2 linked regions of the Homo sapiens genome follow. The protein of the gene in region 2 purifies or fractionates together with the protein of the main gene of each other region. This does not show direct contact. Each region holds a gene or a part of one and is shown on either strand. Other genes may lie near its edges.

Region 1 (3,660 bases), on a different chromosome or scaffold from region 2:
CAGTGAGCCGAGATTGCACCACCGCACTCCAGCCTGGGCGACAGAGCGAGACTCCATCTCAAAAAAAAAAAAGATCATCCAGGGAGCCTTGCCCAACACCAAGGCCTAGGTTCTGCCCTCCAGTAATTCTGCAGCCAAGCAGGAAACCTTATCCTCATCAATAAGGCCACAACTGCTGTGCTGTATGCAGGCCACCAACATCTCTGGTAGGGAAGCCCTTTGTCAGCGCTTATCAACAAAGAGGGTGTGCTATTTTCCTCCTGGAGCCAACATTTCTACCCTAAAATGGTCTGGGCCTTCCTATATACCTCCCTCCAAGTTCCACCTTGAATTTCAAAACTGCCTCAGTGAGGACCTGGGAGGATGGCTGGCAAGTCCCTGGCTGGATGGCCATAAAGTTTCTATTTATTGAAGGCCTAGAAGGTATCACTGTGCAGGATCACATGTGTTAATTCTAGTCTTCTGAAAAGCCCTTCAATGGGGTTATTTTTGTTCCTGATGAGGGATTTCACGCTCAGAGAAGGTAAATGACTTTCCCAAGGCTAGACAGTTAGTTAGGAGGCAGAGCCAGGACTTGAATCCATCACTGATTTGACACCCAGCTCAAGACTTCCAATTACACTACGTGGTTACCTAATTGTCAACCTAGTAACTCAGCTCTATACTGGCAGAATACAAAATTATTTTATAATATCCTCATCATGATCTATAAGGCAGAGAAAAATGGCTTCTCCGCAGAAGAAGGAAAATACTGGAACTTGGTATCTGCTATTTGTTTAATTAGCTGATATGGACAGCATCATTAAAAATCATGCTTGAGACATGCCAGTGAATAGACAGAAAAACATAATCCCACTTCCAAAATGAGGAGAAAGGAACCATGGTGCTTCAGCATATTAAAGAATGCAGCCCTGAGCACACTTGCTCTCTTAGCAACTACTCTGCTACTCATGATAAAATCTCCACTGTTGTTACAGTCACTATATTGGAAAACTGCAAGGTGGAGAAGAGAACATTTTCTCCCCTCTCCACGTGGCTCTTTGGAATATCAAAATGGAGGAAAGTGGTTTTTTACAAAGCTGTAAGGAAAATTTAGAGCTTTTCCATCAGTTGGATCAGATGTTTCTGGGATAGATCTGAACTGACACTGCTGCTTCCAACAGCTCAGAGAAGGGAGGATGCCCATTGCAGAGGCAGGGCCACAGATTCCAGACCCTTCTCTTAAAGGGCCCCAAAGACCCACAGTGTTCTTTCCAGCCTCATGGAAGTCAGGGAAAAAGGGAGCAGAGTTAGCACCAGGAGGGAGGAGGCTGTCTGAAGCCCTAGCAGGTATGGGGCCATAGGCACAGTCACCACTGCAGGGATGTGGCTCCTTACCTTGGGCAGGAGCAGTTCACCCACTCTGAAGCCATGGCCAGTGGGGGGCCTCCCTTGCCAGTGAAAGACGCGATGTTGGGCAGGGTCACAGGCAAGTCCTCCAGGGGCACAGGTGTGGGGCCACAGACTGGGCAGTGGACAATGGGGATTGGTGTGCCCCAGTACCGCTGCCGTGAAATCAGCCAGTCTTTCAGTTTATCACTTGTCACGTCTCCACCCACTCTCTTCCCCCGGGCTTTCTGAGTCAGGGCTAGAAAAGCATCCTGCCGGGTCATACCTGTGAACTGACAGGGAAAGAAAAGAAAGCTCACTCCTCTCCGCATAGCACCAGTCACCACCCTGATGCTGCCACCAGTCCTGCCATGTTTATGTGTGGCTCTCCCAAGGGACCAGTTCTGTGCAGAGCTGTGTCATAACTTTCATGAGCCCTAGGTGCTTCTGCCTTTGTAGGCTCCTTGCTCCTTCAGATAATATTAAAAATTATATTTTACAACTGCATCAATATAAAGACAAATATAACTTTTGACCCTAAAAGTTCATTTTTTTCTTCTGATTTTAAAAGAAATTAAAACTTTTGCAGAGGCCTCTAAAAGTATTGTGGGCCCTAGGCACTGTGTCTACTGTGTCTAATGTGTCTAAGTTGGCCCTGGTTCTGTGGCTTGCTTTATCACCAGAGCCCTGTGACACCTACAGAGATCATCAAATATCAGCTTTTAGCTGCCAGTACAGAACTGCACGATATGGATTTTTAATGACTACTCCCCTGTTGGGGGGAAAATATTCAGAAAAGAAAAATCCAATATTATCCTAAAGCAGAAGGAATTCAGGCAAGCAGAGGAACATTCTGAGGCTTCGGCTTGAAGAACCAGACCACTCTTTTTATATTTAAATGCTCCCGTTTTATAGACAGCAGGACAGACCACTAACAGTACAAAAGAGAAATTATCTTTTCACTTGGTGCTTTTCAGAGAGCCAAACTAATTATATGAATTGAGCCAGTGTGGCTTGGTAACAACCTGGATTGCGGGTACCCTCGCATTTGTTCAGTGAAGACCCACTGGGCATCTATACGTGCTGGGCTCGTGCTAGCCATTGGGGCCACAAAGATAAATATGATCTTCCCATGTCCTCAAGGAGCTTACAGTCAAGAGGCATAAAGAATAAGAAAATACAGCTATGTTTATCAAAAGCAGCCCTTTTCATGAATGGTCTGAAGTGTCTTTCTGCACTCCCATTATCACAGTCGTGATGCAAATCATAAAAAGCTCTCCTGAAAGTCAGTCTTCTCCTAACACCACTGTCTTTCCATTCCAGAAGCTCATAGATGAAAGCGGCTTTTCCCCAGCCATTCTCCTTCTACTTATTGAAATAATTATTTTACTCTAGATATTCAGCCTAGAGCCAGGAGAGGCTTCAACAGACCATCTGAAGCTGTGTGAAAGAAGCCAGGAAGCATAATTAATGCTCAGAGTACTGTACTAAAGAGTGGATGCTTCACTAGGCACTTCAGAAGCCTAATTTTGGCCACAAGTGTCCCCTTTCTTGCCCTGTAGAGGGTTAACTGGGGCTCCTTACAGACACTGTGATTTCGCTCTGCTCTACCTCCAGGAAACCTGCTCAAACAAGGTCTAAAAAAAGGCCTAAGGGTCCATATCTTAGAGCATGACTCATGTCTGGGGATGCAGTTTATGAAGTAAAGCCACAAACATGGGGTTATAAAACATGGACTCCTTACAAAGGAGAAAACCTGACCATTATTCCTTTATTCTATAGATATAAATATAGCCAGATAGTCACAAACCTGAAAAACTTGGATCTTCAGGTCTCACTGAATCAAGATCAGCCAAGATGGGACCTGTAAGCACCTCCCAGGTGATTCAGAGCCATGGCCAGGTGTGGCATCACTATGTTAAGTCAGTAGTTCCCAGACTCTGCTGCACATCAGAATCAACTAGGGAGCTCTGAACACTATTGATGTCTGATCCATGCCCCCCTCACCACCAATAACCATCAAATCGGAGTATCTGGAGTGAGACCCAGGCATCAGTATTATTTTAAAACTCTCAGGTGTTTCCAATGTGCAGTTAAGTTTAAGAGTGCTCTAAGCCAGTATTCTCAAACTTCTAATGTGCATACAAATCATATAGGGATCTTATTAGACTAGGGTGGGATCTAAGACACGTGATGCCAGTACTGCTGGTCCAGGGACCAGACATTAAGTGGCAAGGTTCTAAGCCCTTGATTCTCAAAATGTGTTCCCTGGACCAGCAGCATTAGCAGCAG
Region 2 (3,466 bases):
AGTATATGTATATAATATACACTCATACATTTATGTATTTCTTTTTAAATAGGGGACATCCTGAAGTTCTTGAAAAAGAAGAAACCTGAAGATGCCTTCTGTGTTGTGGGAATAACAATGATTGATCTTTACCCAAGAGACTCGTGGAATTTTGTCTTTGGACAGGCCTCTTTGACAGATGGTATTCCGTTTTTGGCATTGTTGTTAGAAGCTTCTTCAGCTTGAGAATATTTGAAGATGTTAGAAGAGGGAAAAAATTCCAACCAAGAATCATATTGATATTTAAAATATTTTCAGTTGAGACATTATGCCATAATGGGAAGTGTGCTGTTGGTAGATTGTGATAATCTAGGTTCTGGTTGGCCACTCACTACCTACAGGACCTTAAAGGTAACAATACCCACATCATGGAGTCATTTGGAGATAATTTACATAAAAGTGCCTGTACATAAAAAGTGTGGATAAGCCTGGACAACATAGACCACATGTCTACAAAAAAATAAAAATTTAAAAAACTAAATTAGCTGGGCATGGTGGCACATACCTGTAGTCCTAGCTACGCAGGAGGCTGAGGTGAGAGGATTGCTTGAGCCCAGGAGGTTGAGGCTGCAGTGAGCCATGATCGAGCCACTGCACTCCAGCCTGGGCAATAAAGTGAGACCGTGTCTCAAAAAAAAAATGTATATATAGGCCTGGCATATATATAGGCATACAGCATAACAGCTAGTAAATGTCAGTAATTCAGTAGCAAGGTGAATTAAACCAATTACAGTTTGAGCTATCAATGGATGTGAAAATCTTGCTAATTATTTTTCAATTCTTTTCATAGTCATCTTGCACAGTTAGAATAGCCATAGACTAAGTGTATGCTTCTTTCTCATCATACGACATTTGTTTTTTAATTTAAAGAGTCAAAACGTCCATCTTTGATTTGAGATATGTAATAAACCTTGACTCATTAGGAACTCTGTATGGTAATATTAGGGATGGGAAAGGTTCTGCAAACCGGTCATATTTTTAACCTTTTTTTTTTTTTGTCATCTCTCTACTTCTCCCCTCCCCTTAATTATTGTTCTTATTTCTCTAACTTCATCCCTAAGAATCCAACACAGACTTGAAAGGGAAAAGGCCCCCTAAGGGGAGTGGTTCATTAGTGTTCTGGGGATGGGGAGTAAGTACAGGGACTATCCTGAGAGTTTATGGTCTGTCTGGATGTTACATTAGCCTTAGGATTTGTGTGGGGTGGTAAGCTTTTTGGGACAAATGTTTCTACTAGAGGTGGGGGCTGTAGGGTTATAGAGCCTCTTCCCACTTACTCCTTTATTCTTTATTCTCCATTTATGTGAGGTTTCTTGTGGCCCCCATGGCCCTACCAGCATGCACTCTTGGAGACGTGGGTCACTACTTTCTTACTGATTTTGGTGGTGTGAGGTAGCTTTTTATCATAAGTTTTCTCTTTTATTATTAACCTGATAGAGATGGAAACATTGAAAAATAATTCTATCTACCTTTTATTTTTCTTTTGAGACAGAGTCTCCCTCTGTCACCCAGGCTGGAGTGCAGTGGTGTGATCATGGCTCACTGCAACCTCAACCTCCTGGGCTAAAGGGATCATCCTGCCTCAGCCTCCCGAGTAGCTGGGACCACAGGACCACCACACCCGGCTATTTTATTTTATTTTATTTTTGGCCAGATGGGATTTTTTTTGGCCAGATGGGATCTCCCTGTGTTGGTCAAGCTCATCTTGAAGTCCTGGGCTCAAGCGAGCCTCCCATCTCAGCCTCCCAAAGTGCTTTGATTACAGGTGTGAGTCACCACACCCAGCTAAAAAAATAATTTTAAAACCATATGTTCGTTTATCTAGATATTGCTAGCTAACTTATCTTATGTGTTTGAGGAGGTCAGGAAACATTTCCCCAAACTGTATTTACTTTAATTCTTTTTTTGGTAAGTTTCTTAAATATTACATGACATAAAAGATTTACATAGGAAAGTAGCAGGATTAGACAGTGACAATATCTTAACACAGTGGTCTTGTTTTCTCCGAGTTTACAAAGATTGATATTTTTAAAGTGAGACGCATTGACTACGAAAAAAATAGTCTATTTGTAGGATTATTGGAAGAAGGAAATGTCCTTGCTGAAAGTAGTGAAATATGCTCACACTTGATTGGCCAGAGGGGGTTACTTGTGATAAAGGAATAGATTTAGTGTGCTCTTAATTTCCAGAATGCTATCTTTGCTTAATTTTCAAATATCAGTCTACATTTTCTGGGTAAAGGGAGGTGAGGAAGTTTGTTTTTGAATCAAATTAGATTGGACAAATCTACTATGGGTTTATTACTTTAAAAACTGAACGAGAGACATAAATAAAAGTGATCATGTAAACAAGTCGAATTATGAAGCAGTACCCTGTAGGGTGAGTTATGTAGCAAACCGTGTTCTCTGTGCTTGCAGAGATGGTTGATATAACTCTAAATGTAACACAGGAAGTCAGTTACAAGGGTATTTATTCTGGTCACCAGACACTAGTGACAGAATAGAGTTGAGCTGTTCTTTGAAAAGGGGGTAGGGTTGGGGAAGGGGACGAGGTTATTCTGTCAAAAGCCGTGGTTTAAAGCATGGGCTTCAAGACATCAGGGGCAGTTGTCCTCAGTCAGTGCTGCGTGAGGGAAGGCCAGCAACCCCTCCAGACACACGTGTAACAGATCTGTTTAGTGTGTCCTTAAATAGTGAAATCATGACTTCCTATTGTTCATGTGATTTTTTTTTTTTTGAGACTGAGTATCACTCTATCGTCAGGCTGGAGTGCAATGGTGCGATCTTGGCTCACTGCAACTCCGCCTCATGGGTTCAAGCCATTCTCCCGCCTCAGCCTCCCTAGTAGCTGGGATTACAGGCACCTACCATCATGCCTGGCTAATTTTTTTTAGAGACAGGGTTTCACCATGTTAGCCAGGCTGGTCTTGAGCTTCTGACATCAGGTGATCCACCTGCCTCGGCCTCCCAAAGTCCTAGGATTACAATCGTGAGCCACCACGCCCAACCCATGTGGTTATTTTTTATGATTCCTTTTTGAGTACTTGATTTGGAGTACTTGCTACTTTCAGAAAAAGACTTCTTTTGTGGGAAAAGACTCTCTGAAACTTCAGTTTCTCAAGCATTTGACCTCAAGTCCATTAAGTTTTACAAGGCAAGGCAAAGTGGATAGCAGCAAAAGATTTTGATAGGGAAATCTGGGGCAAAAGTCTTCCTTTTTGGTGGCAAACCATAAGTGTATCAGATGGTGTGGACACAGTGACACAGAGATGCACTCACTGGCCAGATGGGCCAGCAGTCTCTTCTTTCTTTGGTCTTTCTTCAGGGACCTTACTCTCATTCTGTCACTGTTTGTCCTTTTTTTGTAGGTGTGGGGATATTCAGCTTTGCCAGGTATGGCAGTGATTTTTATAGCATGCACTATAAAG

What was found. Proteins that work in one complex are often made in the same cells at the same time.
Region 1: the proteins of AMZ2 (region 2) and LARS2 purify together in Homo sapiens (co-immunoprecipitation; one large-scale study listed by IntAct). This does not show direct contact.

What each region holds. Positions count from the first base shown.
Region 1 is NC_000003.12:45,489,518-45,493,177, reverse strand, and holds part of LARS2 (leucine--tRNA ligase, mitochondrial), read right to left. Parts: intron 1,662-3,660; coding exon 1,378-1,661; intron 1-1,377.
Region 2 is NC_000017.11:68,250,998-68,254,463, forward strand, and holds part of AMZ2 (archaemetzincin-2), read left to right. Parts: intron 1-52; coding exon 53-181; exon of another isoform or gene 182-390; intron 391-3,406; coding exon 3,407-3,466. UniProt on the Homo sapiens protein: Probable zinc metalloprotease.